6 separate regions of the Homo sapiens genome follow, and regions 1, 2, 3, 4 and 5 are each reported to be linked to region 6. The links are microRNA targets in miRTarBase. Many come from high-throughput screens and were not tested one by one. Region 6 holds a microRNA gene; each other region holds the end of a gene's coding sequence. Distances are from middle to middle.

What was found. The annotated mature microRNA hsa-miR-4455 reads AGGGUGUGUGUGUUUUU and lies in region 6 at 2,690-2,706, shown strand. An mRNA with a match to its seed (bases 2 to 7 or 8) in the 3' UTR can be bound and repressed. Matches are read on the target gene's strand: a 7mer-m8 pairs with bases 2 to 8, a 7mer-A1 pairs with bases 2 to 7 and ends in A, and an 8mer does both.
Region 1: the mRNA of CD40LG is a reported target of hsa-miR-4455. The part of its 3' UTR that is shown has no 7-base or 8-base seed match.
Region 2: miRTarBase lists LRRC10 as a target of hsa-miR-4455. Seed matches in the 3' UTR shown: 8mer at 1,883-1,890.
Region 3: miRTarBase lists DIPK1C as a target of hsa-miR-4455. The part of its 3' UTR that is shown has no 7-base or 8-base seed match.
Region 4: miRTarBase lists PLAC8 as a target of hsa-miR-4455. The part of its 3' UTR that is shown has no 7-base or 8-base seed match.
Region 5: the mRNA of EFHC2 is a reported target of hsa-miR-4455. The part of its 3' UTR that is shown has no 7-base or 8-base seed match.

Annotation. Positions count from the first base shown.
Region 1 is chrX:136,658,908-136,664,138 of GRCh38, forward strand. It overlaps CD40LG (CD40 ligand), which reads left to right. Exons shown (of 5, transcript NM_000074.3): 5 at 132-1,483. The coding sequence ends at 508. Among named protein-coding and RNA genes, the nearest start is that of CD40LG, 13 kb to the left of the region's middle.
Region 2 is chr12:69,605,637-69,610,979 of GRCh38, reverse strand. It overlaps LRRC10 (leucine rich repeat containing 10), which reads left to right and starts at 73. Exons shown (of 1, transcript NM_201550.4): 1 at 73-2,416. The coding sequence starts at 142. The coding sequence ends at 975.
Region 3 is chr18:74,433,207-74,438,549 of GRCh38, forward strand. It overlaps DIPK1C (divergent protein kinase domain 1C), which reads right to left. Exons shown (of 4, transcript NM_001044369.3): 4 at 1,569-3,513. The coding sequence ends at 3,295. Among named protein-coding and RNA genes, the nearest start is that of DIPK1C, 21 kb to the right of the region's middle.
Region 4 is chr4:83,089,765-83,094,840 of GRCh38, forward strand. PLAC8 (placenta associated 8) reads right to left here. Exons shown (of 5, transcript NM_016619.3): 4 at 4,914-5,027; 5 at 284-1,207. The coding sequence ends at 4,923. Among named protein-coding and RNA genes, the nearest start is that of PLAC8, 22 kb to the right of the region's middle.
Region 5 is chrX:44,143,893-44,149,002 of GRCh38, reverse strand. EFHC2 (EF-hand domain containing 2) reads left to right here. Exons shown (of 15, transcript NM_025184.4): 15 at 107-1,131. The coding sequence ends at 208. Among named protein-coding and RNA genes, the nearest start is that of NDP, 170 kb to the right of the region's middle.
Region 6 is chr4:184,935,784-184,941,126 of GRCh38, reverse strand. It overlaps MIR4455 (microRNA 4455), which reads left to right and starts at 2,687; the gene lies at 2,687-2,744. RefSeq lists a silencer at 198-492.

The DNA.
Region 1 (5,231 bases), not on the chromosome of region 6:
AGCCCATGGAAGGGGCCTTGAGAATCCATCCCTATACAAAGCCAATATCCAACATTAAACTATATTTTTTGTCAGAATGTGAACCATGCTCTGCTTCACCTCACCACAAACTTTCCCTTTCTTTGTAACAGTGTTACAGTGGGCTGAAAAAGGATACTACACCATGAGCAACAACTTGGTAACCCTGGAAAATGGGAAACAGCTGACCGTTAAAAGACAAGGACTCTATTATATCTATGCCCAAGTCACCTTCTGTTCCAATCGGGAAGCTTCGAGTCAAGCTCCATTTATAGCCAGCCTCTGCCTAAAGTCCCCCGGTAGATTCGAGAGAATCTTACTCAGAGCTGCAAATACCCACAGTTCCGCCAAACCTTGCGGGCAACAATCCATTCACTTGGGAGGAGTATTTGAATTGCAACCAGGTGCTTCGGTGTTTGTCAATGTGACTGATCCAAGCCAAGTGAGCCATGGCACTGGCTTCACGTCCTTTGGCTTACTCAAACTCTGAACAGTGTCACCTTGCAGGCTGTGGTGGAGCTGACGCTGGGAGTCTTCATAATACAGCACAGCGGTTAAGCCCACCCCCTGTTAACTGCCTATTTATAACCCTAGGATCCTCCTTATGGAGAACTATTTATTATACACTCCAAGGCATGTAGAACTGTAATAAGTGAATTACAGGTCACATGAAACCAAAACGGGCCCTGCTCCATAAGAGCTTATATATCTGAAGCAGCAACCCCACTGATGCAGACATCCAGAGAGTCCTATGAAAAGACAAGGCCATTATGCACAGGTTGAATTCTGAGTAAACAGCAGATAACTTGCCAAGTTCAGTTTTGTTTCTTTGCGTGCAGTGTCTTTCCATGGATAATGCATTTGATTTATCAGTGAAGATGCAGAAGGGAAATGGGGAGCCTCAGCTCACATTCAGTTATGGTTGACTCTGGGTTCCTATGGCCTTGTTGGAGGGGGCCAGGCTCTAGAACGTCTAACACAGTGGAGAACCGAAACCCCCCCCCCCCCCCCGCCACCCTCTCGGACAGTTATTCATTCTCTTTCAATCTCTCTCTCTCCATCTCTCTCTTTCAGTCTCTCTCTCTCAACCTCTTTCTTCCAATCTCTCTTTCTCAATCTCTCTGTTTCCCTTTGTCAGTCTCTTCCCTCCCCCAGTCTCTCTTCTCAATCCCCCTTTCTAACACACACACACACACACACACACACACACACACACACACACACACACACACAGAGTCAGGCCGTTGCTAGTCAGTTCTCTTCTTTCCACCCTGTCCCTATCTCTACCACTATAGATGAGGGTGAGGAGTAGGGAGTGCAGCCCTGAGCCTGCCCACTCCTCATTACGAAATGACTGTATTTAAAGGAAATCTATTGTATCTACCTGCAGTCTCCATTGTTTCCAGAGTGAACTTGTAATTATCTTGTTATTTATTTTTTGAATAATAAAGACCTCTTAACATTATCGTTGTTGTTTGAGTACCTAAAGCTCCCAGCCAGGTTGGGGAAAGAGGAAGCATTTGGAGGGAATTTTCCCAACCTTTGTGATGTTTTCATAAACTTTGTTCTCAAGCTACTTACATTATAAAATATCTTGGTGGCAGCACACTTTCTGGAAGTCTGTGACAGCCTTTGATCGATGATGTGCTAGCCTATTCAGTGAAAAGCAATCTAGGTCTTTATTTCCAGCTTCTTCTGAAAAAGTTGCAGGAGATTGAAAGAACTTTTTTTTATTAATCACAGCCAAGTGAGGCTGGAGAGGGTCCTTAAATAAGGAGCAGTGGCATAGCTTATTAATAGCTGTCTAGGTGGTTCCACTTAGGCAAGAGGAAATGGAGCTGAGAAAACCTGAGGGGAAGTATTGGCCCCCCAGTCTTCCACTGAAGTCAATGGAGCCATTTCTTGTCACCTCCAACAGAGGAATTTTTCATGTAAGAAACCCAGAGTGGTGTGTTCATCTTTACCGGGTAAGTCCTACATGCTCACTGTTGGTTATCTCCCTGGGCTCATGGTTTTAACTTAGCAGCATCTTCAAGCCACTAATGCCATGCCTTTTGTTCTCAACTGTCTCCTAGAATTTGCCTGCATCTCCAAAGGGTGGGCCTAGTTCCTCAAACCCAGTACATTCCAACCGAACTCTTAACTTTTCCCCCCACACAATGGGATCTGTGTTCAATGTTTCCCAGTCCAATGAATGGTGTCTTTATCTACCCAGTTTTTCAAGTCAGAAACCTGGCTTGACTTCACTCTCATCACCCCCATGTTCAATCCCTCCAGCCTATGCTCATCAACCCTATCTCTTAAGTAGTCCTTAATCTACTTCTTTCTATCTCTACTATTTCTATCCTAGTCCCAACTGTCACCATCTCTCTTCTGGAATAGTACAACAGCCTCCTAGATTCCCTGCCTCCACTCTTGCTCCCTTCCATCAATTCTCCATGCACAGCCAGTCCCCTGCTTCTTATGAACCTTGGAATAAAGACCAAAATAATCAATTTCATCTCCTGCTGCCACCTCTCTCGGTCTCTTAAGTTCTAGCCCTCAGTTCCTCTAAGCAAGGTTACAAATGCTTTCCTACCTTAGGGCCCTGGAATGCTGTTTTCTCTTCTTGCAAGACCCATTTCTCTCCCTCACTGCACCCTGCACTTAGCAAGTGCTTCACAGCACTTATCATGGTTGAAGTTTTCCCTACTATGCTGTGAGCTTCTTGAGGACCAAGACCTTGTCCCATTCACCATGATAACTTCAGCGTCTACCACAGGACCTAGCATTGAATTGGCCCTTTATTTGGTGCATGAAGGAATAAATGAATGAATAAATACAGCTGCTTATAACTCAATAGCCCAGAAAATAATTCTGTGTGTTGGCTGAGGCAAAAATTTGCTACACTGAAAGGATCCTCATTAGGTCAAAAATATCTGGATGATAAAAATGCACTCATGGAGTAAAAAATGACTGAGAATTATGCTGTAGCTAAAAACAGATAATATGTTTTTATTATACATTTCATGATAATTTGCAAAATAATATATGTTTGTTCCAAACTTCAATTGAACATTTTCAGCATTTTCCTATAAATGAAAAAGACTCGAGTACATTTCTGATGTACCTGTAATAGTCTGATCATAAATTATCTAACTTAGTTCCATTTTTATAATCATGTCACTTCTGCCTTCTATCTAAGGGGGAGGGTGGGAATGTTTGAAATACCAAATAATTATTTCTAGATAAAGAGAAAATAAACAAGGATAAAATATTACTGCCTCTGTTATTTGATGGTTAGCAAATGACCACAAAACGCAAACAGTGTGCTCTAGCAAGCTGTCAGAACAGGGGTGCCCCCACTTAAACGGAAATGACATGTAAACTTTTGGGCTTCAGGAGAGAATACATTCTGTGCTACATTCAACTATTTTCACAGGGCCCAATGCCACTGTGTTGGGAACTGCACTGCTTTAGACTTTTAAAGTAGTCTGAAGTACTTTGAGACACAGAAACATGGAACTAAGTATGATTTTTATGTTATTTTTCTCTGTGAATCACATCCCCACTAAAACAAAACAAAACCAGAAATGCTCATTGTAGTGTAGTAGTTAAATCTCGAGTCAGACAGATACAGTCTTAATCTAGGCTCCACTATTAACCAGCTTTATAAGTACAGGCAAGTCATTTCACCTCCTCTAGTCCTCTGTGTCTTCATCTGTAAAGTGGGAATAAAAAGAAGACATGCTGGGCCAGGCATGGTGGCTCACGCCTGTAATCCCAGCAGTTTGGGAGGCTGAGGCAGGTGGATCACTTGAGGTCAGGAGTTCGAGACTAGCCTGGCCAACACAGCAAAACGCTGTCTCTACTAAAAACACAAAAATTAGCCCAGCATGGTGGTGTGTGCCTGTAATCTCAGCTACGTGGGAGGCTAAGGCAGCAGAATCACTTGTACCCAGGAGGGGGAGGTTGCAGTAAGCCAAGATGGTGCCTGTGCACTCCAGCCTGGGCGACAGAAGCAAGACTGCATCTCAAAAAAAAAAAAAAAAAGTTTATAAAGATTCAGTGAGATTGTCCACAGAAAGTCCCCAGCAGAATCTGCTCTCTGGAGAAGATCATCATGTAAGAAGCACTAAGGTGGGTCTCTACATGGTCCCCAGCACACCTGTCTGCATTCAGTGGTGCAAGTGGACAGGGTGCCATCTTAAATGGTTGAAACTTCTGAGACCAAGGAGAATGCCTGGCAACCCAGGTACACATGAGAGCCTATGCTCATGTACTAGACCAAAGACCACACCCAATGTGAAGCAAAGTGAAACCAAAAAAAAGAAAGAAAGAAAAAGCAAACATTACAGTAGACCTGTGGATAGCAAAGACCCTTTTTTTATGGTATAGTTTTATTGTCAAAAACTGCTAAGCGCTGGGGGCTTGGAGTTGCCAAATTTTTCAGTAGGTTTGAGAAGATTACATATATATATATTATATATATATATTATATATATTATATATATATTATATATATTATATATATATATTATATATATTATATATTATATATATATATTATATATGTTATATATATATATATATATATTTAGATGGAGTCTTACTCTGTTGCCAGGCTGGACTGGAGTGCAATGGCATGATCTCGGCTCACTGCAACCTCTGCCTCCCAGGTTCAAGCGATTCCCCTGCCTCAGCCTCCCGAGTAGCTGGGGCTGCAGGTGCATGCCACCACGCCCAGTTAATTTTTTTTTTTTTTTGTATTTTAGGAGAGATGGGGTTTCACCATGTTGGCCAGAATGGCCTCGATCTCCTGACCTTGTAATCCGCCCGCCTCAGCCTCCCAAAGTGCTGGGATTACAGGCATGAGCCACCGAGCCCAGCCGAAGTTCTATATTTAGGAATGTTTCTTTAAAAGACGATGACCATTGATTCCCAGTCTAAGGGGCATCAGCACACAAACCTCCCCCTTCCATACCACACTTTCACACTCCTCTGAGTCATTCTTCAAGCAATTCAGTAACTTTCAGGAAACTGCCCCACTCCTGCAGTTCCACTGAGTTATCTATAAGGTAGCTGCATCCATGGGTCTGGAGATCAGGAGAAAAGTCAGAATGGAAAACTGTGGACATGGGAGTCATCTGCATTTTGATAAATGAAGTTATGGGGGTAGTCAAGGTTGTCTAGGAATAGGCTATAGATTGGAAGAGACGAGGAAAAGAGGATCA
Region 2 (5,343 bases), not on the chromosome of region 6:
TTTCTCTGTCAAAGTGACTGGCTTTTGTCATGCAATCCCCAAGTTATAATGGGAGGGTAGGATAGGCCCCAGAGCAGTCAGCTGAGCCAGCCCCGCTCAGTGAGTCTGTCCTCTGGGGCTCGCCATGCCCCCAGCCTCCGCATGGGGAACACCATCAGGGCCCTCGTGGCCTTCATCCCTGCTGACCGTTGCCAGAACTATGTGGTCAGGGACCTCCGTGAGATGCCGCTGGACAAGATGGTGGATCTGAGTGGGAGCCAGTTACGCCGCTTCCCCCTGCACGTGTGCTCCTTCAGGGAGCTGGTCAAGCTCTACCTGAGCGACAACCACCTCAATAGCCTGCCTCCGGAGCTGGGGCAGCTACAGAACCTGCAGATTCTGGCCTTGGATTTCAACAACTTCAAGGCTCTGCCCCAGGTGGTGTGCACCTTGAAACAGCTCTGCATCCTCTACCTGGGCAACAACAAACTCTGCGACCTCCCCAGTGAGCTGAGCCTGCTCCAGAACCTCAGGACCCTGTGGATCGAGGCCAACTGCCTCACCCAGCTGCCGGATGTGGTCTGTGAGCTGAGTCTCCTTAAGACTCTGCATGCCGGCTCCAACGCCCTGCGTTTGCTGCCAGGCCAGCTCCGGCGCCTCCAGGAGCTGAGGACCATCTGGCTCTCGGGCAACCGGCTAACTGACTTTCCCACTGTGCTGCTTCACATGCCCTTCCTGGAGGTGATTGATGTGGACTGGAACAGCATCCGTTACTTCCCCAGCCTGGCGCACCTGTCAAGTCTGAAGCTGGTCATCTATGACCACAATCCTTGCAGGAACGCACCCAAGGTGGCCAAAGGTGTGCGCCGTGTGGGGAGATGGGCAGAGGAGACGCCAGAGCCCGACCCTAGAAAAGCCAGGCGCTATGCGTTGGTCAGAGAGGAAAGCCAGGAGCTACAGGCACCAGTCCCTCTACTTCCTCCTACCAACTCCTGAGGAGCTTCAGTTGCAAGTCAATGCCAAGGACCCAACTGCAGCATGTTCTGGAAGCCTCTCCATTGGAGTGGAAAGGATGGCTCTGGGTCATTTGGGAGTGGCTCTGCTAGTAGAGACTGATGGAGAGAGCCAGGTGGAATGCCATAAATCACACTGAGAAAATATTTCTGGCAAACAGCTCCTCTTCCAGAGGGGAGTTGTGTGCCAATGATGGCATGACAATCCAGAGATCATAACTTCTTTGCAAGAAAACAGCTTCTCCACACATGTATTTTGAAACACTGAAGAGCAAAAGGGGCTGGGACACTCTGAACTCCTGCACTCTCCAGAAGTGACTGGTCATGAAGCTCATGAGCTCCTCAAATAAGGTATTTGCCATAGAACTAAATATTCTGGTGGTCTGTCTCTTTGCAGGACATATTTTCTTTACTGTAAATGACCATAAACAGTATCAATGTATCACTGAGGCCACCGAAAAGGACATTTCTACCTAGGCAATCAGTCAGATTCACAGAAAAAAGTTGTTTGTTGTTGTAAAGGCTCAAGATGAAACTCTTTCCCCAGCAGTTTAGTGCCTGCTGAAAAGATCCCTGATGGACAATACTTCTTGGTGGACTCCAGCTGCCCCTTTTATTATTATTAGAGACAAGGTCTCACTCTGTTGCTAGGCTGGAGTGCAGTGGCACAATCATGGCTCACTGCAGCCCCGAACTACTGGGCTCAAGCCTTCCTCCCGCCTCAGCCTGCCCAGTAACTGGTACTACAGATGTGCACACCTGGCTAAGTCTTTAATTTTTTCGTAGAGATGAGGTCTTGCTATGTTGCCCAAGCTAGTTTCAAACTCCTGGGCTCAAGCGATGCTCCTGCTTCAGCCTCCCAAAGTGCTGGGGTTACAGGCATGAGCCACCACACCCAGCCTTCAGCTGTCACCTTAAACTTGACAGTGGCTCATGCTGATTTAGTTCATTTTCCCTAAAAGGTTTGTCCCAAGATCTGCTCCCAACAGTTGACTGTCACTGACAATGTTGGAAGTCATCTGGAAAAGAGAACCTCTGTGGTAATGTGGTCTCATTAAAGTCAAGCCTTGTTGTGATTCCTGTCTACCTCCCTGAAGCAAAGCCCTTCTGTTTATTCACACTAATGAGCCAGAGCTGAGCTAAATTGAATCCCTGTCCTTGGAGGAAAACCACATTTCCAGAAGCATGTTAGTTTAAAGGTAGTAGGTGAGAAATGTGTTCTCTTGAAACAAGCACTTTGAAATTTGAATAGGAAGTTGTAGTGTATATAGGAAGTCTCTGCCTCTTTCGCCTAGTATCTCTGCCTTTGTTTCAATTTGTTTTGATTTTTACAGACTGTTTTGACAATGTATAAACCAAGGTATTTTGTTTTTTGGAAGTATGTAAATTGTGACCTTCCCACAAATATATAAACTTTAAAGAAATTGTTGTCAGTGGGTAATTTAATAATACAATTCTTTATGTACTTGAACGTTTTCAGCAAACAAGGACACAAAAAGTGTTATCTTAACTAAAACATACAGTACCAAGTTTTTAAAAGGATGTTTTCTGTAAAAGCATCTTAACCCAACAAAGTTTGGTTCTAAAATGACATTACACAGCAGACCTATTTTCATGTATGTCTTCCTACCAGAAATATTTCCTGCTAAACTAGAGGAAGGATGATGTTGCATAATTCCTTCCTATCGTCACCTCCCATCTGCAGAGCATTTGCAACCCATTGATCAGACTGCCAAAAAAGGTCCCTTTAATCATTTAATGTAATAGGTTTAAACTTTCAGGTCAAACATATTTAACTCCTTTAGAAACAAGTCCATATTTCTGTTGGACAGTTAGGATTTATCTCATTCCTAATGACGGAAGCCAAATTATACTCAGCTGATGCTAGAAACTTTTGTCAACAGAACTTGCATTCTAAGCTTAATCTATAGCAAGGTTTATAGATTTCTGACTTTCTTTTGACCCTGTCTTACCCTTCCCAAGATTAATCGGCCATTCTGTAGTTGCAGACTATAACCATAAAACAGAGTGAAGCCAATTGATCCATACAGAACTGTCATCTAAAGAGCTAACTGGTCTGAATCAGTAGTCAAATTATAAACATTTTGGCCCATAATCAAGCTGTTTTCTTCTAAAACAGTCAATACACAAAGAACATTTCTCAAATGGTATGGTCAAGTGTTCGCTGTTGAATTTGCTTTCCAAAAATGTTTTCACTGTAGATTTTCAATCAATTTTTTTTTTTTTTTTTTGAGACAGAATCTTGCCGTGTCGCCCAGGCCGGAGTGCAGTGGCGCTATCTCGGCTCACTGCAAGCTCCGCCTCCCGGGTTCACGCCATTCTCCTGCCTCAGCCTCCCTCAGCCTCCCAAGTAGCTGGGACTACAGGCGCCCGCCACCACGCCCAGCTAATTTTTTGTATTTTTAGTAGAGACAGGGTTTCACTGTGTTAGCCAGGATGGTCTCGTCCTGACCTCGTGATCTGCCCACCTCGGCCTCCCAAAGTGCTGGGATTACAGGTGTGAGCCACCGCAACCGGCCTTCAATCAATTTTATAAAGTATATAAATGCATACTTACATTTCTATAACCCTTCTAATAGTTTCTGGAAATGTTGACACAATTAGAAAGTAAAATAAGAAAATGTTGAAGCACCAAATGTAACTTTTTTGCTCCTGATTTTTAAGTCTTGAAACTCAAAGTGTTAATGCATCAAAGGGAAAATGTCTTCCAGAAGTTTACATAGGATTTTAGATTCCATAAATAAGAGTGATGCCAACTGAAATCTTTAACATGGAATCAATTGAAATGAATCAGCAACCAAGTTTGCTTCTTTATTTTGTCCTAAAATGCATCATCTCTAGAGTTTGTAATTTTCACTTAAAAGTGGGTTTGTGCCCTAATAATCAACTGAACTCAAACTAAAGGCACATATCCAACACAGTGAACCAGAAGCAATGTAGCATAGCGGCTAAGAGCATGGCCCTTCAGACTACCTGGGTTCAAATCCTAGGCTTGCCACGTACTAGTCAGTTATCATCTATGTGCCTCAGTTGCTCATCAGTAAAATCATAACAGTTTCTGCAGAGCACTGTAAGGATTAAACCCATTACTGTGTATAAAATGCATAGAACAGTGCCTGGCATGTGACAGTGAAGGTTTATATAAAATGTTCTTTTACTAAGTACTACACCATGCAGCACAACACCTATATTTACCCTAAAAGCAAGTGTAATTCCTTGATTTTTTTTTAAAGTGGCATCCCATGATTTGAAGGAGAAAAAAAACAGTGGCAATAGAACAAAAAAGCTGTTTTCTCTTCAGAAAATTTTCAACCATAATATCTAAAAGTCCTGAATGTAAGAAATATAACCACAATTTGGTCAAATGCTCCTGGCTTACCAAAATAGGAAAACACACAGACATGATTACCAAGGATGCATTTGCAAATTTCTAAATGAATATACTTTCATCCTTATCTATTATTCTAGAATTAATCACCAAAGTACTTGAAAACACGGGACTATTCCTTGGCATGAAATCCGTTTCTTAAGGGGCAGGAGGCATGTGACTGAAGACGTCGGTCCTGTTAGATAATTTTACTCTGCCTTTTGCCTGTTTTTTTTTTTTTTTAAGCATACTATTTGTCATCTCCGTACCATAGAAAGGATACTACTACTATTTGAAAACAACAAGGTATGCATGCCTTTCTTTCCTTGTGGACCGTCCACTTCTGGCAAATACTAAGCAGGACTTATCATTGAATCATCAGTGCCTTGTACAGTTAGTTCCACCACACTTCTTGAAGATGGGAGATTTTATCATGTACCCAGCCCATGGGACAGGAGGAAAGGCTGACACGTGGAACGCTGCTAGAGGCCAGGTACTTTCCTCAGGTTCTAAAGTTAATTCATGTAATCTTTTCAATACTCCTTTGAAAAGAGCTATTATATACTGCTCACAATTTTAAAATCACAAATTTGAAATCAGGGTTATCTTTAGTCTTCATATTGAGAATCTGAAAAGTTCTATAGTAATTCTGATTTTTTCTTTTTTTTTTTTTTGAGATGGAGTCTTGCTCTGTCACCCAGGCTGGAGTGCAGTGGCGTGATCTCAGCTCACTGCAAGCCCCACCTCCCGGGTTCACGCCATTCTCCTGCCTCAGCCTCCCGAGTAGCTGGGACTACAGGCGCCCCTCCCGGGTTCACGCCATTCTCCTGCCTCAGCCTCCCGAGTAGCTGGGACTACAGGTGCCCGCCACCACACCTGGCTAATTTTTTGTATTTTTTAGTAGAGACAGGGTTTCACCATGTTAGCCAGGATGGTCTCGATCTCCTGACCTCGTGATCCACC
Region 3 (5,343 bases), not on the chromosome of region 6:
ATTTCTTTTTTCTGACTGAACCAATAGATGTTAGAGCCAGAGTGGCATTTGTTTGCCAACCACAGGGGCTAGCGTGGTGAATGCGAGAGTATCTTTATGCGGTCATTGGTTTTAGAAATCTCCAACCCAACTCCTCCACTTACTGCTGTTCAAAGAATAGCTTCCAAATCAAGATTTAAAAGAGTTATTCTTCCAGTAATTTAAGGTAATGTCCTGGATGTTCATCATAGGTACTCTGGAAGGGCTGAGCAGGCTGGGCCTTAGTATGGGGCAGGATGCATGGGAGGCTAAGCCTGGTGGACTTCTAGGAGGCAGCATGTCTCTGAACTGTTAGCTTTAATTTGTCTCATGTGAGATGAGAATTGAGAGGAGGGTTTAGCAATATTGGCAGTGTTTGTAAACGTTTGTGATGTTATGTGACATTGCCAGTTGACATTGGCCAACTGACTCATTGACCAGTCTAGGTATCCACGAACTTGTCTCCTGAGCCACCTACGATTTCTATACAACCCACGTGTATTAAGGTTTGTCAGCTGTAAGCCAATGGAGTATACAATTATGGAATTCTTTCTTTTCATCAAATGAAGTTTTAACTACAATTTGTCAAGGTAAACTGTGGCAATGGAATCCTGATGAAGGACTGGACATGAATAAAGCACCATTTGCTTTAATTTGGATACAACTTAAAGAGGAATAGCCTGAGCTTGATGAGTTTACTTTATAATCTTTTTCAGATCCCATCAACATGTCTCTGAGAGTGTTCTGTCTACTATGTGTTATTACAACAAAACATAGAAATCATTTAGGGAGACATTTTCCTCTACGAGTGCGGTTGTTGCTCAATTAGATCAGCCAGAAAAAAACCGATTTGTCATATTCAAAATACTAAATATTGATATACACAGTGTTAATTTATTATGTTATATAAAAGCATTGATTTGCAAGGTTTCAAAATTAAAAACAAAACTGAGCTTCACCACAATTTGAGAGCCACTGCTCTAATGGGAATTCCCAGGCAGGGATGGAAAAGGGTGTGTGTGTGTGTGTGTGTGTGTGTAACTGTGTAGCCAAACATAAAGGGAAGAGATAAAACAGCTCCCTTTCAGCAATAAAACCACAATTGTGTTGGATAATTATATATTGCACAGTCTCCATCGTAAACAAAAACAATTTGTTTCCATTTTGGTTGAAATGAAAACTAACTATTTCTCTTTTCCAGGCTGGCTTTGCTGCCTGGTCAGTGAGCTCAGGCCACTAATGAATGGCTGGCATCCCAGCGTCTACCCACAAAAGACCCACTCTGACCTCCCAGAGCGAAACCCCACTGTTTAAAGGGCACAGAGGGCAAAGCCCTGGTGGCTTCCCTCCTTCCCCCCCTCCATCTCACACCCGTCTTCCTGTAAACCTTTTTGCTTGTAGAGAACCTGCCTAGAAGGTGAGCATGGCCCAAAGTATGCCCCGACCACCACAGAAAGGCATTGCACCCAGCGCAGCTCTGGGGAAAATCGGAGCCTCCACCCAATAGCCCGAAGCCCGCCCTTTCCTTTGGAATCCACTAGTCCTAGGCCTGGCCGTTGAACTTTGGTTTTAATTTGCTCGTGCCACAGGGTGACTGACATGGGTTTTTTCCTTCTTGCTAGAATACAATTGCAAAGCGAGTCTTCATGTCCATGATGAGGAGGCCCTCTATGGAACTCTGTGTCATTTGGAAGATCCCCAGTGGTGATGGGTAAGAATAACAGCTGGCAGTGGGCCTTCCAACAGGTCTTTGGGGAAGGCAGAATTTAGAGCTGGGGGCCTCTGATCATGCTAGTCCCTCACACACCATTTCTCAGCGTGCCCTGAAGGGCAGAGTCAGTAAATGTGACCCCAAAGTCTGGAAGAAGGCATTCCCGTTTCTCTGGTTTAGAAAGGGGCTGCAGGCCAAGATAAGAGACCATTTGGAATGTGTCAGTTTGTGACTTTCACAACGTCCGATTAATTTGTCTTCTTTAATGTGTAAACTGCCAACATGACTTCCTGATTCTCTCATCTTTCTCGATTTCCCTTTTCATGGGATTTCTGAAAAGGGGTGACCCGTTGGTTTGTTGAGCACTCGTGGGTCACAGTTATGGGTAGAAACCAGGTCCCTTTAAGTGAAAGCTCACTGGCTTCACCTGGCCTGTCCCCCTGCCTGTATTTTGCTGGAAAAGCCTCCTTGGGATCACCACTGATGAGCGTATCATGCCACCATAGGATTTGATGCCTATCACTTGGTCTTCAATCCATCAAAAGAAAGGTGCTGGTCTCTGGTCCTGCCTGGAGTCAATGCAGACCTCAGCATTTGCTCTACTTTAAATTTTCTCTGAAGGTGAAGACAATGCTGCATCAAGCCAACCTACAAGTCCCTGCCCAGGGGAAGGTGTATTGCAATACGAGGCGCCCTAAAACCCATCCATAACCTTGGTGGATTCCACAAAATGAAAAATACTATAAGCTGCCGTTACACACGCTCTCCAATGCAAATTCCCTTCCCTAAAGATGCAGCTTATTTTCTTTTTATTGTATTTAATTCCGAAAGAATGGTCACACTTCTTTGCTAGGTAGGCAAGATGTTCCGGAGGACACACTAGAGAAAGCACCACTCCCCACCCTAACCCACATCCCCAACACACTCACCTGCCCACACTCACACAATCACATACACATGCCCACACTTATATACACATGCTGACACCCGTGCACTCATGTGCACACACTCATTCACACTCATACATATTCACACTCAGGCATACTCATACTCCTCATGAGCACACCACACTCACCTGTGCACACTCACCTGTGCACACTCACACACATGCAGACACTCATGGGCACACTCACACATGCTCACATGCTCATTTGCACCCAGACACAGGCATACACATCATTTGTATGCACACACGCACACTTTTTAACGTGGTAACGATTTACAGGAAAGAACAGCTGGAACTCGTGCTGGGATAACCAGGTACAAGTGCTCTCTGCAGAGAATAAGTGCACACAGGTTGGTGTCTTCTGACCGAGAGCCCTCCTGAAGGGAGGTCTGTACCTCCTCCCTCATCTCATTTTACACAAGGCGACAGGTCAGAGGCCAGGGTGGGACGAGAGCGAGGGAGCACTGTCTCTGGCAGCAGCACTTGCCACTCCACAATGTGGAGACCAGAACGGCACCCCAGAGAGCACAGGGGAAATGGCTCATCTTTAAAACAATGGCAGAAGAAATCCAGCCAAGGTCACTTTTCCTGTGTGAGCATGTTTAAGGCCAGAGAGTGGCTACTTCTCTGCCTCCTGCAGCTCCCTCAGTGTGGCTTGGAGGAGTTGGCGAAGCTTCCAGAACACGCTGGAGGCTGCTCTCCGGGTGTTCCCACTGGGGACCCCAGGGTCTGCACATTCCTGCACCGCCTCCTGTAACTGCAGCTGAAGCTGGAAAGAGACCGCAGAGCTCTTGAGAGGCGCGGAAAACCAATGGCGAAATATTTTGTCACAGATGACCTGAGGGAAAGAAGGGTGGACAGTTAATTTAGGGCAGCAAATCCTCCTAAAAGCTTCCCAAGCCCAGGATTGGTTCTGAAACAGATTTCAGCTTCTCTCCCACCCCCACCCCCGTCCTTCAGGGAGCACACTCCAGAGACCATCCGATTTGGAAACATGCCTTCACTTCTGCCCCTTAAACCCTTCAGCACCATGAACAAAAGACGCCTCCGAGAGGAGAAGCCAACATCTGTGTGAGGCAGAAACTTCCCTTTCCAGCCCCCTAGCAGATGGACAAAGTTCTGGGTGACACTGTAAAAGGACTGGACACATTTCTAGGGAGGAAGGGAAGCAGAAGTCACAGACAGTCACTGCTGCAGAAGGAGTTGGTCCTTTGCAGGCCTGAGGGAGGCCGGCTTTGCTGTTACCACCTGGAGATGAGGTTTCTTATCCACAAGCTGGTCCTAGTGACAACAATGACCATCTGACCGGGCTGTCCAGAGGGCCAAATGGTGCGTGAGGGAGAAGTGTGTGAACTTGTATGGCTGCCTGTATAGCACTTTAAGGCTCATGAAACAAAGGCATATTTGACAGAAAAGACTGCAGGCATAAGGCTCTTTGAAGGCTCTGTGAAATGTGTTATTCTAGGAGCAGAGGTAAAAATTAGACACTCTCTTTAATTCTAATCGGGTATGAAATTCAGTGATGCTGAGGATCACTAGAAATTTCTCCCTGTAAACATGTTGTTTGTTTTATAGCTCCTACAGCTTCCCCCACGCTGGGAGAAATGACCTGCGAGCTGCGTGATGCATCATGCTTTATTTCTCTACATCACACTTTATATCAGACTCAATTAACAAATGCCTCCATTGTAAAGAGCTACTGCTTCATAGAGGACAAAAACCTTCAACTTCCATTTCACAATCCCTGCAAAAGCAAGGATTCTTTTCAAAACCTAATTATGGTTTTTTTAAAATAGAGAATACATTTTCATGTGCAAAATTTAAAATGTTCTTAAGGCTAGACCGTGATCTCAGGCTCCACCTCACCCCGATGCTCAGCTCCCGCTCTGAGAATGAGACATTCTTTGACATACACACTTCCTTTTCCTTTCATTTTACACACAGGTAATATATTGTACACACTGTTCTCAAATTTCCACCCCCATTTATATGAGGGAGATCCCTCCAAATTGATTTCTTTTTCTTTTTGAGACAAGGTCTCACTCTGTGACCCAGGCTGGAGTGCAGTGGTGCCATCTTGGCTCACTGCAACTTTGACTTCCTTGGTTCAAGCGATCCTCCTGCCTCAGCCTCCTGAGTAGCTGGGACTACAAGGGCATAGCACCATGCCTGGCTAGTTTTTGTATATTTTGTAGAGACAGGGTTTTGCCATGTTGCCAACACTGTTCTTGAACTCCAGGGCTCAAGCGATTCACCTGCCTTGGCCTCCCAAAGTGCTGGGACTACAGGCATGAGCCACCACGCCCAGCCATCCCTCCAAATCAGTTCTTATGAGGATATCCCATGTGATTTAATGGCTACTTCTAAAATGTGTGCGTGTGTCGTAAGTTATTTAACCAGTTCCCTATTGATGGACTTGAGGTTGCATAATAACTTTTGCATTATGAATAATACTGCAATAAATGTCTTGCAGATATATGCTATTGCATTTTGTGCATGTGACTACATTTCTAGAAATAGGATTTCTGGGTCAAAGGGCACGTGCATTTTTTGTTTTGATAGATGTGTTAAATTGACTCCATAAAATTTCTACTCATTTACACTCCCCGGCAATGTATCCAAGACTGCTCGTCCTCCCTTAGCCTCTCCAACGCAAACGCCACAGATT
Region 4 (5,076 bases), 100 Mb from region 6:
TCACTGAATTTGATCATTGATCAAATTTTTCTTACTCTGATAAGAGTTTTCAGAAAACTCTGATCAGAGTTTTCTTACTCTGATATCTCATATTCAAAAGGGAAAGAAAATCAACAACACAATAAACAACCTCCTGAGGAATGCAGTGTAAAAGCAAGGCTTGGTGTGTTGTTTCGCAAAAAATCTTGCTTTGTCAGCATTAATACTAACAGATAACATGAGAAGAGGCAAAAGTGTTGGCTAAATGTACCATAACTGCCTGGGAATAGTTATCTGTAGTCTATTTTTTTTTTTTCTCATCTAAAGTTCTTAGATGAAAGAGAGCTGGGTTACTGTGAACCAAAATCTCCTGCTAAGAAACCAAAGTATGGTGCAGTGGCTCACACCTGTAATTCCAGCACCTTGGGAGGCTGAGATGAGAGGCTTGCTAGAGGCCCGGAGTTCAAGACCAGCCTGGGCAACATAGAAAGACCCCCAACTCTAGGCTGGACGCGGTGGCTCATGCCTGTAATCCCAGCATTTTGTGATGCCGAGGCAGGTGGATCACGAGGTCAGGAGTTCGAGACCAGCCTGACCAAGATGGTGAAACCCCGTCTCTACTAAAAATACAAAAATTAGCTGGGCATGGTGGCGGGAACCTGTAATCCCAGCTACTCGGGAGACTGAGGCAGCAGAATCGCTTGTATCCAGGAGGTGGAGGTTGCAGTGAGCTGAGATCACGCCACTGCACTCCAGCCTGGGCAACAGAGCGAGACTCTATCTCAAAAAAAAAAAAAAAAAAAGAAAGAAAGATCCCCCAACTCTATTAAAAAAAAAAAAAAAGAAAAAGGAAATCAAAGTATAAGAACAAAATTATGAGACTGACCCTTGGAACTAACTAGTGAAAAAGACATTTTAAGGAGAGCAAAGAAGCATGAAGAATCTTATCAGTAAAATATTTCATTTGGTTTATATTTCAAATGTAATTTAAAAAGTTTATAAGCCAGGAAATTCGAATTCGATAATATGAAAGCAAGGAGAAACTAAGTTGCACCATTTAGCTAAGTTCAGGGACAACATTCATTTATAATAAATCAAAAATTTGATTTTTTTCATGCCATCAGTTGTACTTAAGCATATCCATCATATTTCAGTTGCAAAAGATGGTGAAGAACTCAAGCTGAAGAGGTGTCTGCTGAATTTTGTTGCTTCGGTAAGAGCTTTTCACCTATAAAGGACACACAAGAGTTTTGAATTTTCTTAAGGTACTTTTATAATTTTTAATAAACTTTTAATTGCAGAATCATTTTTGATTGACGGAAAAGTTGCAAAGATAGTACAGCGAGCTCTCATGTATCTGGCACCCAATTTTCCTGTTGGTTAACATCTTACATTACCATGGGAGGTTTGTCAAAACTAATGAACCCATACTGATGCATTACTACTAATCAAAGCCCATACTACCTTCAGATTACTCAGTTTTTACCTACTTTAATTTTCTGTTCCAGCATCTCATCCAGCATACCACATTACATTTAATTGTCATCTTCTCTTAGGCTCCTCTAAACTGTGACTGTTTCTCAGCCTTTCCTTGTTTTTGATGACCCTGACAGTTTTCAGGAGGAGTAGTCAGGTATTTTGTGGAATGTGCCTCAGTTTAGGTTTGTCTGATGTTTTTCTCATGGTTAGACTGGAGTTAAGAGGTTTTGGGGAGAAGACCACAAAGGTAAAGTGCCATTCTCATCACATCAAATCAGGGGTGCAAACTATCAATATGACTTATTACCAATGATGGTGACGTTGATTACCTGGCTCAGGTCATTGTGTCAGGTTTCTCCATTGTGGAGTTACTCCATACAGTATAGAGAGTGCACTTGCATGCTGTACTTTTCATGCTGTACTTTTTGGAAGGAAGTCACTATGCAAACCCCCACTTCAGGGTGGGGAATCATGCCGCTCTCCTTGAGGAAGGAGTATCTACCTAAATATTTGGAGTTCCATATGGGAGATGTGTCTCTTCTCCCATACAGAAATTCTCCTGCCACTTCTTTGCTCTCAAAATTCCCAGTTTTCCCTGCTTTCAACATACATACTTTTTTTCAATTTTCAAATTTTATTCAGTCATTTATGTCAGCACAAACTCATAGATATTTTATACTTTGGGTTATAATCTAACACGACCTTATTTTGTTCCTCAAAGTGCCCCAGTTTGGACTATGGGGAGCTTTTCCAGTGGATTCCTATGTCCTTCATCTCAATCTATTTTAACGTAAATCATGTTGTTATTCCTTGCTCTTTCTCTCTTGTTTAGCTCCCCATTTCGATATCTGTTTGTCTAAAGTTTTATTGCCAGTGAGTGATGTAGGGTCCAAGTTGATGAGGAGGAGTCAGGACCGCCAAGGTATTTTACTTCAAACCCACCTAAAGATTCAGTGAGATATTTTCCCTGAGGTTAAAGAAAACACTTGAGCTATCAGGACTCATTACTATGAATGTGTGGGTAGATATTTGATCCAAATTGTTTCATGTATTTATTTAAGTAAACAGTGTTGGAATGATCTAACTCCCCATCTTTGCTTCTGGCCTCATCCTGTACAATCTGTACTATATACTATTATTAGATTAATATTTATTATTTTAAAATTTTATTTATTTTTATTTTTACTTTTTAGTAGAGATGAGGTCTTGCTATGTTGCCCAGGCTGGTCGCTGGTGCTGAACTCCTGAGCTCAAGTGATCCTCCCACCTCGGTCTCCCAAAGTGTTGGGATTATAGGCATGAGCCACCATGCCCAGCCTTAGATTCATATTTCTAAAGAGTAGTTCTATTCATTTACTTCAAGCCTGCAATAATTTCCCAATTCCTACCAAGTCATTAGCTTAGTATTCAGACATCGCATGCTAAGGCCTTTAAAATCTTTTATTTTTCGTTATTTTTCTACTTATGCCATATGTTCTAGCCAAGTTGGACCTAAGCTCATAAAGATATTTTCTCTGTTTTTGCCTCTCTAGTTTCATTAATATTGCTGATTAGAAGCAACATTTCATTTCTTTTCTTTTTCTTTTCCTTTTTTTTTTTTTTTTTTTTTTTGAGACAGGGCTGGAGTGCAGTGGTGTGATCATAGCTCACTGCAGCTTCTACCTCCCAGGCTCAAGTGATCCTCCCACCTCAGCCTCCCAAGTATCTGGGACTACAGGCGTGCACCACCACACCTAGCTAATTTTTGTATTTTTTCAAGAGACAGGGTTTCAACATGTTCCCCAGGCTGGTCTTGAACTCCTGGGTTCAAGCAGTCCTCTTGCCTTGGCCTCCCAAAGTGCTGGGATCACAGGTGTGAGCCACTGCACTCAGCCTCCATTTCTATTAATTAAAACCACATCTTGAGTCAGTGATCCTCTGTTTGCCCCTATCTGATTTACTTACTCCCTTGACCATCCTGCTGTGTGCCCTGGGAAGCGACCTGCGGACTACCGTGACACTTTGCTGCCCTCTGCCTTTCTGGTGGGTTCAGCCAATGGGAAAACCAGAAGGACATCCGAAAGTGAGGTCAGGGTACTTTTTCAGTTCTATGGGTTGCCTCGGGCTGCTCACAACCCTCTCTTGAGAGGATACTGTTTCTTTCAGGGCAGGCCTCTTCACACAGCTCTCTCCTTAAGGATTCAGGTCACTGCTCCCTCTTCTCCTCCCTGGGGCTGTTGCCAGGCAGGTTATTATGCCATCCCTTGTCATCTCCCTACAATGCCCCACCCACACCTTTATAATTAGTCTTCATTAAATCTTTGAACTATCACAGTTTGAGTGCCATCTGTTTCTTGTTGAGAACTAATACGCACTTCCCCTTTAGAATTAAAAATCACTGCTTTCAAGAAACTTTCACCTATACATCTTACAAGATGTGATCTTTTCCTCCTCTGAACATAAAATACCGCTTTGTCTATAGGCATTAATTGAATTCTGCATTTTAGTTAGGGGTTTGTCTAATCCCCCTTTTTCGTATAAATTCTATAATGACAGAGGGACTAGCTTATTTATCTTGCTCCCCAACCCTACTACAATACCTAACAGTATCTTACCTAGTCTTAGATATTGATACATTGATACATTAGTTGCTAAGATAATATATACTTGATCCTAGATCCTTAATACATTACTTGCTAAGTAAATGAACATTTTTTTACGTATCTCCCAAGAGTTATTTTTATTAACCCATACAGAGTCCTTATCACTTCAGGAAGGAAACTGGATATTACAAAGAGTAGAAAAATTGTGTTCTTCCCATACTTAATATATATTCTACAGGGGATGGAGTAAGTCATGTTGATTTCTACTTAACTACATCCTCAATAGATAGTCCTGAGAAAAATTAGTTGAAAATGACTTGATTGAATTTCAGATGGTTAATTCTATATAACATTTCCAAACATTCTAAATTCTATGTTCACCTCTTTCAAAGTTCAGCTTCTCCAACAGGAGTTTTCTATTTAACCTCACCTTGCTATGATAGATGCTTTATGCCACAATCAATCCAAATATCATACAGAATGTTATTTTCTTTACTCTTCTATTTTATAATTATTTACGAATTCCTTTTGTCAACTTGTTTGTCTTAGCAGGGAACATGTTTTCTAATTCTTTTGTATCTCACCATACTCTGGTATTTTACAAGTGGTAAGTGCTTCCTTAATAGATCACCAGAATTCTGAGAAGTTTAGAAAATTCACCATTCCTTTATTTACTAAAATATGGTTTCAAAGTATAGAGCTATCTTCTTCATAAGAAGAAAATTAAAGCCAATCTTGATATTATGATAGCACTTCAGGAGACTTAAGAAATAGTTATTGCTGAATTATTCAAAACAACAAATAATTGACAAAGTCTTTAGTGATATTTCTAAAAACCCACATGTTCTGAGAGGCATGTTTGCATTGACTCACCATCAGTTTTTAGAAAGTACGCATGGCTCTCCTTCTGTTGATATCTCTCTTGATTTGGCAAAGAGTACAATGAGGACAGCAAAGAGTTGCCATATAGTCATCACAAATAGATCCCTGTTTGAAAACCAAAAAGAAATAAAAATATAAAATTCACCTATTTGGA
Region 5 (5,110 bases), not on the chromosome of region 6:
AAGTAGATGGTAGAAATTTTCACTTTGCAAATAAACTGGTGTTGAATTTTCAAAACTGTACTTTGAAATGTGGTTCTAATCATATCCATTTTTGGTTTTTTTCTAGAGATGTGAAGATGTTTGGCTTGGTATGCCATCACCTATTCCTGCGAAATACATTGACTACTGGACCTTTTTGAAGGACGCGTTTGGCTTAGAGGAGGAATAACCATGCCAGTTTTGGTCAATTCTCTATGATTTACTTCTCTCATTTTGCCACATTTACTTTAGTAGATATAATTTCATTAAAAACAAAAAAGAAACAAGGTTTATATTAAATGGAAATCCATAAACCACAATTAATCCTATTTTGTCATGTTAGTTTTACAGAACATCATGTTACATTGCCGACGTACTGTTACTATTTAAAATGCCATCTTAAAACATGTTGAATATTTTTATTATATGTATGGTTTATTAATACCAAAAAATCTTCTGATAATTTTTGATCCAACATAATTTGATTCATTACTATATGAACAGAAAATGACTTTTGAAGGTTATACATGACAATACAAAATCAAATTATATCACAGCAATAAGTTGTGATTCTATTAAACATTTTTGAAACCTTTTTGACACGTTTATTACTTACATAATTAAGTTTTGTAGCAACCCACCTCATCAAAATAATTCTTAAACCTCTCTAGAGTAAATATATTTATCTTTTGAACTTAGTAAAGCTATGGGAAGAAAAAGAACCTCCAACACACACACACACACACACACACACGCACGTGCACACACACTGGAAACATATGCAGTATTTATATTTGTAATGCCCTTTTTTCTATCTAAAGTCAGCTTGTTAGCTTAGGAATATATGCATGTGTGTATAATTATAGTTTGACCAAAACTTTATTATGTCTAAAATATTTACAAATGTGAAAGCTGAAGATTTTGAGATTTTTGTTTTTTTTTTGGTTTGTTTTACACACACATCCCACGCGCCCCACCCTAGAGGTTTAAATATTCAGAAACTACAACATTTTTCCCCTGCATTTTTCTAGTTCTATTTTTATTTTTCTTCAGCAGAACTCTTGTCATGTAGTGTACATTTGATTAAAACCCATAGCCATGTACCTCTGGGAATTCAGTGTAAGAAGTCTATCCCAGTCTATGCCATTGTTCAGTGTTGGATGCTATGTATCATAAATCCATTTGCCTGGTGTTCTGGGAGACAATGGAGGTCTCAAAAAGGAGCTGCACCATTTACCTTTCAGGGACTACCCTGAGAAAAAGAAGAGCTGATGACATCTCAAGGGACCCTTCGGACTCATTATTCTTTCACTCCACATTTGCAGCAGTGTCTTGCTGGCTTCTTGGCACTCAAATGTACCAATTTATTCTCCACAACAATGGCCCTTTCATTTTTAAAAAATTGGAGTTAATCAATAAACGATTTCTATATGTAAGCCTAGGATAATTCCACATGTGCTATTGTTAGAATAGACGCTCCTCCCAACCCTTTCAGGACTTAACACTAAACTAGTATACTCAATTTATATACTAAAACTATCTACCATAAATCCTAAATTTGACTACTTGATTTTTGTCCCAGGTTTTTTTTAAGGCAACTGACAGTGCCAAGCCATTTTGTCACTTTAAGATTTTTCATTCCCCAGAGAGCAGGCTTTTAGAAGGATGACACTTTCCTGGAACTTTTCAAGCTGACACATTCGTCACTTACCTATTCAACTCTTCAGTCAGTTGTCTTTCCTTCAAGAGTTTAAATACGTAGATAATTTAGCCCTTGTAGAGGCTCATAATGTAGTTCATTTGAGAAGTGGGGGGAGAAAAAGAAAGGAAGCAAACCAATGACAATGCTCCTGAGTTGTGGGGTGACAACTGCTTATTCTATTGCATAGATGTGTGTTACTGCCCTGGTTGTTTCTGGTTCAAGCCCACAATTAGCAATGAAATGGCCATTATAGGATTCATGCCGATAAACATGATACGTTGCAGCCATACAGACACTTTAAATAATCATTCTTTTTATAACTAAGCCATATACTGGACAAGATTTATAATTTAGAGATAATATCCCCATTAGTAAAGTTTATGACCCAATAAACAGCTCCCACTAGTTAATAAATGCCAAAGCCATAAAAACAAAGACTATTAATGTAATAGAATTTCTGTACCTCCCTCTTTTGCTGGTGGTCTCAAGACACTGAAGGGAAATGCTATCTTAGGAAAAACATTTATTCTCGTTATGTAAATATCAGTGAATTGTCTTACAATCCATCTGGAAGTCTCCCAGCCCCCCTTGGTCCCAGGTGGTCCTGAAATGCTGATGCATTCTGCTTAGGTTTCAAGCAGTAGATAACTCTGGCTTTCAGCACAAATAAATCCCGAGACTAAAATTTTGGGGGGAGGAGGACTGGAATTTCTGCCTCTTCTCTTCCCTCTGCAAAAGAGAAATCCCAACTATTGTCATTGTTCCAGGGTAATAATTTGAAAGAAGTTTCACAACCTTTCCATATACTTATATTTTCAGCTGCTAACATGATCTCATTTTGATGAAAAAGCAAGTGCCACCTTTGGATGTCTGGGTGAGTTGAAGGTTAATATAGGCAAACCTTTTGTCCTAAGAACTAATTGTTATTTAGTATTCTTGGAACTGTGGGAATGATTGATAAAGCCATTTGAAAACCCAAATCAAATCATGTCTTTTCATACAAAACTGATTAAAAGCTGTTGAAGTTCACATTAAGTGGTTTGCTGAGGCACTGTTGTGAGGTATGATGTCGCCAGCAGAGGATTAATTTGCAGTACTTATTTGCCTTTTATTACCTTTTTTACCTAACCACTTGAAAAGTAATGTGGGTAAGTCTGTTGGTTTACTTTAGCTTAAGTTTACTAAAATGGTTAAAATTTTAGACAACAGAGGGGAGATTTGTAACTTTCAAGCATTATAATAGTTTAAACATTTTGCCTACTTTATTTCCTGTATTGCCTTTGGTTCAATTACTGACAAATATACTATTCTTGTTATTTTTTTTTTTTTAAACGCTAGAGTATTTGAAGTTTGATTATTTGGAGTCATAGAGCTTCCAGGCTTTATGGACCCCTCAGTCATGAGTTTAGAATATTTAAATTGCCCTTCCTTCTTTCAAATAGGGCATTATTGATGAGTAAAATGAAATCTCAAATCAATACAAAACACAAAACTCTTGCCTTTCCAACTGGAATTTATCTTGAGTTGGGGTTGCTTCCTAGCCTTTTCTATTTATTTCTTCTTTCTCCTTTCCCTTCCACCACACATTATGATTTTGCTATAAGTTTAGTAGTTGGAGTCATAACGAAATAGGGCCTTCCACAAAATATTTATGATATTGAATAATGCAGAATCCATTATAATAAAGTGCCATGCTCTCAATTACATGTACATTCATTTTAGTTATGAGTATAGATCCCTGAATTTTCAATACCCTAAAAAACGGTCTGTAAATGACCTTTCAGACAAACAGCTTCCCAGTGATGGTAGAAACATATACACGAGTGATGTGTCTCTGCTCTAATGTTTGTTTGGGCAAAGTCTGAATTGCTTCAAGTTGAAGGCAGGTTAAGACCTTTTCAAAAATGAGTGTTTTCAAGTTGACTGAGCATCTTCAGAGACACCGTGCTTTTCAATTCCCAAGAGAATGTAATGTGTAAAAATGGAAAGCCCACTGAGGCAAGATCAATGAGGCTGTTTAGAAAATAATAAACCTGGAGCGATAATGGAGCAAACATTCATTATTACAAAGGGTAGGGCTGACTGTGCAATTAGTTTAAGAGAATTTTGTAACTCACCTCCTCCGCTTATTCTACCAGGTTATACATATTGGTTTAAATATACATTTTCATTCAAGGTCAATTAAGTTCCCTAAAACTAAGAGTTCTGAGACATCTTTGTCAACAGAGTGGCTAGAATATGCATCTTCTTTGTAATTTGTTCCTGGTCCCCAGTAAAATTCCTTGCAAGGGGACTTTCAAGCCCATTATGTGTCTGGTGTGTGGTACACACAGGAGCCCGGGGTCAGCACTGCTGCTCAGAAGCAACTTGGTAAAAGCTAAAAAAATGTGGCCGATGAAAAACTCCACAGTGGCTCTGCAAGCAGAGAATTAATGACTCGCTGGAATCAGTAGGAGCCTTTACTTCTAAATACTCATTAGTTAAAGCAGTGAGGCCTGATGTTATGCAAGTTAGAGAGGGAAAGGGGGGACTGCCCCTCCCCATTGTCTATTTTGAACAGAATATGCACATTTAACTCAAAGTGCTGAATGATTCAAATACATCAAACCCACTATTCATCAGTCTCCTAGCTTCCTGAGCACCACTTTGCATCTGTGTAAAGCCAACAATAGAGGAAAGCTTGTTATGACCCCACTATAATATTAAAATCCAGAGGAGCTGATAGCTTGGTGAAAACATAAAAATGCATTCTCCTTTAGAAATACTTCCACCAAAGTCATCTTTGTGTTTCTTTTTTCCTACTTTGCCTATACAACAAGAACCTCTGACTGAAATAGGAACTTGATAACATTACTTTTGCCTGCTTTTTTCTCCTGTGCTACCACTGGTCATTATTGCTGTGAGGCCACCCGTTGAATAAAGAACAGGAGCTGAACGGCCATTTCAGGCGCCTGCGAATACCCCCAGTTTTAACTATGACTGGAGCTAGGAGAGTGAGAAGGGAAGTGGCAAAAGATGACCATTTTAGAGGGGAGTCGGGACAAAAATAGGGACCACCTTGTGTGTGACTCATGTTGAAGAGTTTGCACTTCATCCCAAGGGAATGAGAAGTTTCTGAAATATTTTAATCTGGGGAATGGAAAGATCATGTCTGTATTTAAAAATCTCTGGCTGCTTTGTGTGTGTGAACTCTAAGAGTGTGTTTGGCGGCAAGAAGACTGATTAGGAGACTGTTGCCAGAGAAGTGATGGGTAGTTTGGATTAATGTAATGTTGGTGAGAAGTGGAGGGATTCACGATGCATTTGGGATGTTGGAGATGAGGGAGAAGAAATCAAAATTATGACTGGGTCATTTTCACAGCTGGATAGATGGTGTTGCCTTTCATTGTG
Region 6 (5,343 bases):
AGAGAGAGACCCTGTCTCAAAAACAAGAGGCAATTTCACCTCCACATCACCTCATCCAATTTGTGCAGTCAGACAGTTGCCCCTCCCCCTACTCACAGACTATTAGATATTTATTCTCTGTAGAGAAAATACAGGTCTTCTGACTAGGGGACAGTAGGCATAGGTGGAAGTGGGTGCTATCCCAGAAATAGGGAGACTAGGTAAGTAGATTCTCACTGGATTCTGAGACCTGCAGTCCTCTCCGTCTTCCTTAGCTCAGAATGCTGTCAACCTAGCCAGGCAATTATCCTCCAGGCAAGAGACTAAAAAAAGTCCTGTGGGGATCTGACCAGCCCAAGAAGATCTTACAGATACTGATTATGAGTTTCCCGTGAAACAGTTCGGCCAGCTCAGCCCAGGGTGAAGTTCACTGTTAACGACCCACATACTCAGTTTCCTCTTGCTCTTATGAGCACGTGATCATGGATTCGAGCCACGTGAGGAAAATTCTAAGTGAAAGATCCAGACCAAGACAAACCAATGTAAAAAACAATGTGGACAAAACAGAGCAGCTCTTTTAAAAACTTACCAGTACTAGCTCAAGAGACACGAAGAGATATTTCACCCTTGGAACAGCAATAGAATGACACAAAAATGAGACTTTTGAAGAACGAGGAGCTTTAAACATTTAGAACCATTCTAGAAAATGTTTAAAGCTTACTTAATAAATTGAAAGATAAAATTGAAGAACTCTCCCAAAAAGTAGAGCAAAAAAAAAAAAAAAAAAAGAACAAATTAAAAAATTAGAAGACTAGTCCAGGAGGTCCAATATCTAAATAATAGGAGATTCAGAAAAAGAGAACAGAAAAAAATGGAAAGGAAAAAATCATTCGTTAATATTTTGGTAAGTAATTTGAACAGTTTCCCAGACAAGAATGATGTAAGCTTTTAGACTGACGCATGGTAGATAAAAACAGACATAAATCAAGGCATGTCACTGGGAAACTTTAGAACTGCTGGGATAAAGAAAGGATCTGAGAAGATTAAAGGATACAAAGGATCAAATCAGAATGTCATCAGGCTTCTCAACAGTAATGGCAGAGGCTAGAAGACAAGACAGCAAGGCCTTCAAACATTTGAAGAAAAATAACTACTATCTTAGAATTCTTTTTTTTTGTTGTTTGTTTGTTTGTTGAGACAGAGTCTCGCTCTGTTGCCCAGGCTGGAGTGCAGTGGTGAGATCTCGGCTCACTGCAAGCTCCGCCTCCTGGGTTCACGCCATTCTCTTGCCTCAGCCTCCCAAGTAGTTGGGCCACAGGCGCCTGCCACCACGCCCGGCTAATTTTTTGTATTTTTAGTAGAGACGGGGTTTCACCGAGTTAGCCAGGATGGTCTCGATCTCCTGACCTCGTGATCTGCCCACCTCGGCCTCCCAAAGTGCTGGGATTACAGGTGTGAGCCACCCCACCCAGCCAGAATTCTATACATAGTCAAAATATCAATTAAGGGCTGGGTGTGTTAGCTTACACCTGTAATCCTAGCACTTTGGGAGGCCAATGTGGGCGGATCACCTGACGTCAGGAGTTCGAGACCAGCCTGACCAACATGGTGAAACCCTGTCTCTACTAAAAATACAAACAAATTAGCCGGGCTTGGTGGCGGGCGCCTGTAGTACCAGCTACTTGGGAGGCTGAGGCACAAGAATCACTTGAACCTGGGCGGCGGAGGTTGTAGTAAGCCAAGATCACGCCATTGCACTCCAGCCTGGGCGACACGGCGAGACTCTATCTCAAAAAAAAAAAAAAAAAAAATCAATTGAGTATGAGGATTGAATAAAGACATCTTAGAAAGGCAATGTTCCAGATATTGTATTTCCTATGCACCTTTATTCCTTCATAGTAGGAAGTTGCTAAAAGATATGCTTCACCAAGATAAAGGAGTAAATCAGGAAAGAAGACGTACAGGAAACAGGAGATCCAACATGAGAGAAGTGAAGGGAATTCCCAGGAAGATGGAGAAGTCCCAGGTTGACAGTTTGGCCCCAGTTGTTGAGAACGGTCTAGACTAGGGGTCCCCAACTCCTGGGCTGTGGACTGGTACTGGTCGGTGGCCTGTTAGGAACCGGGCCACACAGCAGGAGATAGATGACAGGTGAGTGAGCATTACTGCCCGAGCTCAGCCTCCTGTCGAATCACTGGTGGCATTAGATTCTCACAGGGGCATGAACCCTACTCTGAACTGCACATGCGAGTGGTCTAGGTTGCATGCTCCTATGAGAATCTAATGCCTGATGATCTAGGGTGGACCAGTTTCATTCCAAAACCATCCCCCATTGTCTGTGGAAAAATTGTCTTCCATGAAACCGGTCCCTGGTGCCAAAAAGGTTGGGGACTGCCGATCTAGACTGAAGTATGTTGGAGAATCTGGGAGAGATTTTGTGAAGATTGGATTGATAAGATATGTGATGCTCTGACTGTCTTAAGAGGATGTTTGTATAATTAAGTGAGTTTGTGTTTGAATTAGTGATAAGCATCAATAATAATAATAAAATTTTAATCCAGGGAAGCAAAGAGTGGCTAGGATAGGAAAAGTCATTATAGTTTGATGCATGGCTTAGTTTAGTATTTTCATGGTTGTAATCATATAAATGCTCAACAAAGAGCTAACAAAAATTATGATATAACCAGATTAGAAAGATAAGCAGATGAGAAGGGTGTGTGTGTTTTTCCTGAGAATAAGAGAAGGAAGGACAGCCAAATTCTTCATTTGCAAAGGGATAAGCCAATAGATGAATGCATAAAGCTGAAAAATCAAGGAAAGCAATATAAGCATTTTATTTAGAGATGTAGAGGTTACTGACAATAGCATTAGCTAAGATAATTGAAAGTGGTGTTTCTGGAGAAGAGGCAAGGAGCAACTACTATTTGTGTTAATGAACATTGTAGAATTGTTTGGCTCTATAAAATTCATGCTTGTATTACTTTAATAAAAGTTAAAGTAAAAATATAAATAAACAGCAAAAAGCTTGCATAGCACGCCACTCTAAACTAATAAATGAAACTAAGTGATGAACATTTTATAGCATCTGATTTCAATCAGCATCATTTGAAGCGCTTTGAGTGCAGAGTCAGCTCAGCATCTATCCCGGAAGAAAAGCTCGGCCCTGGTGCTGACAGACACAGAGAGGAAATGGAAAGCAGCACCCCGCGGAGTGGCAGAGGGCATGGCTGGATAGGAGCATCTGTCTGCGTTCATCATTAGACGCCAGATGTAACCTGGAGTTTCAGCATTAAATGTTTATATGAAATGATGCCGAGGTGGAAATTTTGCCTTATAAAGTAGCTTATCTTGGGAACAGAGAGTACTATAAAAAGATGAATAAACGATTAAATCAAGGTCCAGACATGAGCTGATTTTTCTTAAAAGCAGTATCTTTACAACTTCAGAGTTTGAACTCTCTGATGTGGAACCAAGCCAAAAATAGCACAAAGAAAATATTGACCATGAGAGTGGTGACCTGGCAAGCTCAACACTGTCCACCTGTTAATCACTTGTCCCTGTTGATTTCAGCTTATGACTGCATACTTTCTAGCCTAATCCTACTGTTGGTATACTCAGGTGCAATAGAAGTTAAAGAGTGAATAAATCAACCTACTAAAAGAGATTCATGGGCACGGGGTGGGTGGAGAACAAACATATTACATTCCAAAATTCCTATGGCTCAAAGGATCAACTACTAAACAAAGCATGTACACCTGAGCCACTGTGGGAGCCAGCATGAAACACTTCCAAGGAATGAATTCAAGGAATGCAATTAATTCCCAAGCTCTTTTTCCCCAAAACTCTATTTTTGTTTCAAGCTAGCATTCCCATACTCTGTTCAGACTTTAATTCCATACTGTAATCTGTCCAGCTTTGGTAACCACCCAGCTGTAATTTGAACTGGCTGGTCAACAAACCAAACACCATCAAAGATTCTCATTTGTCTTGCTAAAGTCAAAAACACTGAAGATATTTAAATGTAAATATAATCTTTTACTGATCACACAATCTCAGGGAACTTTTCCCCCTTTGCATAGTGTCACAATTGGGGTTCAAATTGTGAAGACCAAATGTGTAACTTATACAAAAGTAATCACAATAGTTTGTTGCAATAGAAATGAGCTGTTCTGTGCATTGCTGACAAGCCACTTTTTAAAGTTTACTTTTAAATGTATGTATAGTAAAATTCACTCTTTTTGGTGCACAGTTCTTCAAGTTTTAACACATACATAGATTCAAGTAATTACCACCACAGAGAGGATACAGGACAGCTCTATCATCCTATACACCCTCGTGCTGCCCCACCTGGAATCCCTGGGAACCACTGATCCATCCTCTGTCCCTAGTCCGACCTTTTCCAGAGTGTCATATAAATGAAGTAATTTGGGATGTAGCCTCTTGTGCCTAGCTTCTTTCACTTAGCATAATATATTTGAGATTCACCCATATTATCGTATCATATTGATACAGCTCTGATGAATGGAGGAATACCAGGTTCTTCCTCTCGAGTTGAATTGGAAAAAACGACACGGACACACCTGGTGTGATTTTAAGGAGCAGAGAGTTTAATAGGCAAGAAAGATGGGAGAAGTCAGAAGGAAGAAGCTCCTCCATACAGAGACAGAGGGAGGGGGGCTCCAAAGCTGAAAGAGGAGACCCCACATGCCAGGATACCAGCCAGCTATATGAAGAGGCTGGAGGAGATGGTGTTTGATTTGCACAGGGCTCAGGGGATTGGTTTGACCAGGTAAGTCATTCATGTAGCCCTCGAAAAAAACTGACCCTCCCACCCTAGTCTTTTAATATGCAAATGCAGGGTGCCATGATGTTCTACATACTTGGGGATATGTGGGGGCAGCCATGTTGCCAGGAACGTGTGGGGCAAGGGCAAGAGGACAATGATGGGAATCGCCATGTTGGGTGGATCCAGTTTCTAATGGCTGGCGTTTGCATACTAAAGGTTGCCAGCTCAGCTCTAAGAGCCGGAGCTTTTCTGCTAGACAAGAAACGTTTTTGGAGGTGCTTTAAAAGAAATGAAAACTTCCCAAGGACCCCTTCTCCTCTCTATCTGCCTAAAATAATTTCTTAGTAACTCCTACAACAATATGTTTATGAATGCATGTGTGTATATACATGCATGTTTGTGTGTGCTTATATGTATATGTAACATATACATGATATATAACTTTATTATCATATATATAAGCTTTTAATTTTGAGGTAATTATAGAGTCAGAGGAAGCTGCAAAGACAATACCAAGTGGTCCCTTGTACCCTTCAGCCAGTTTCCTCCAATGGCTACATCTTATACAATTACAGCAT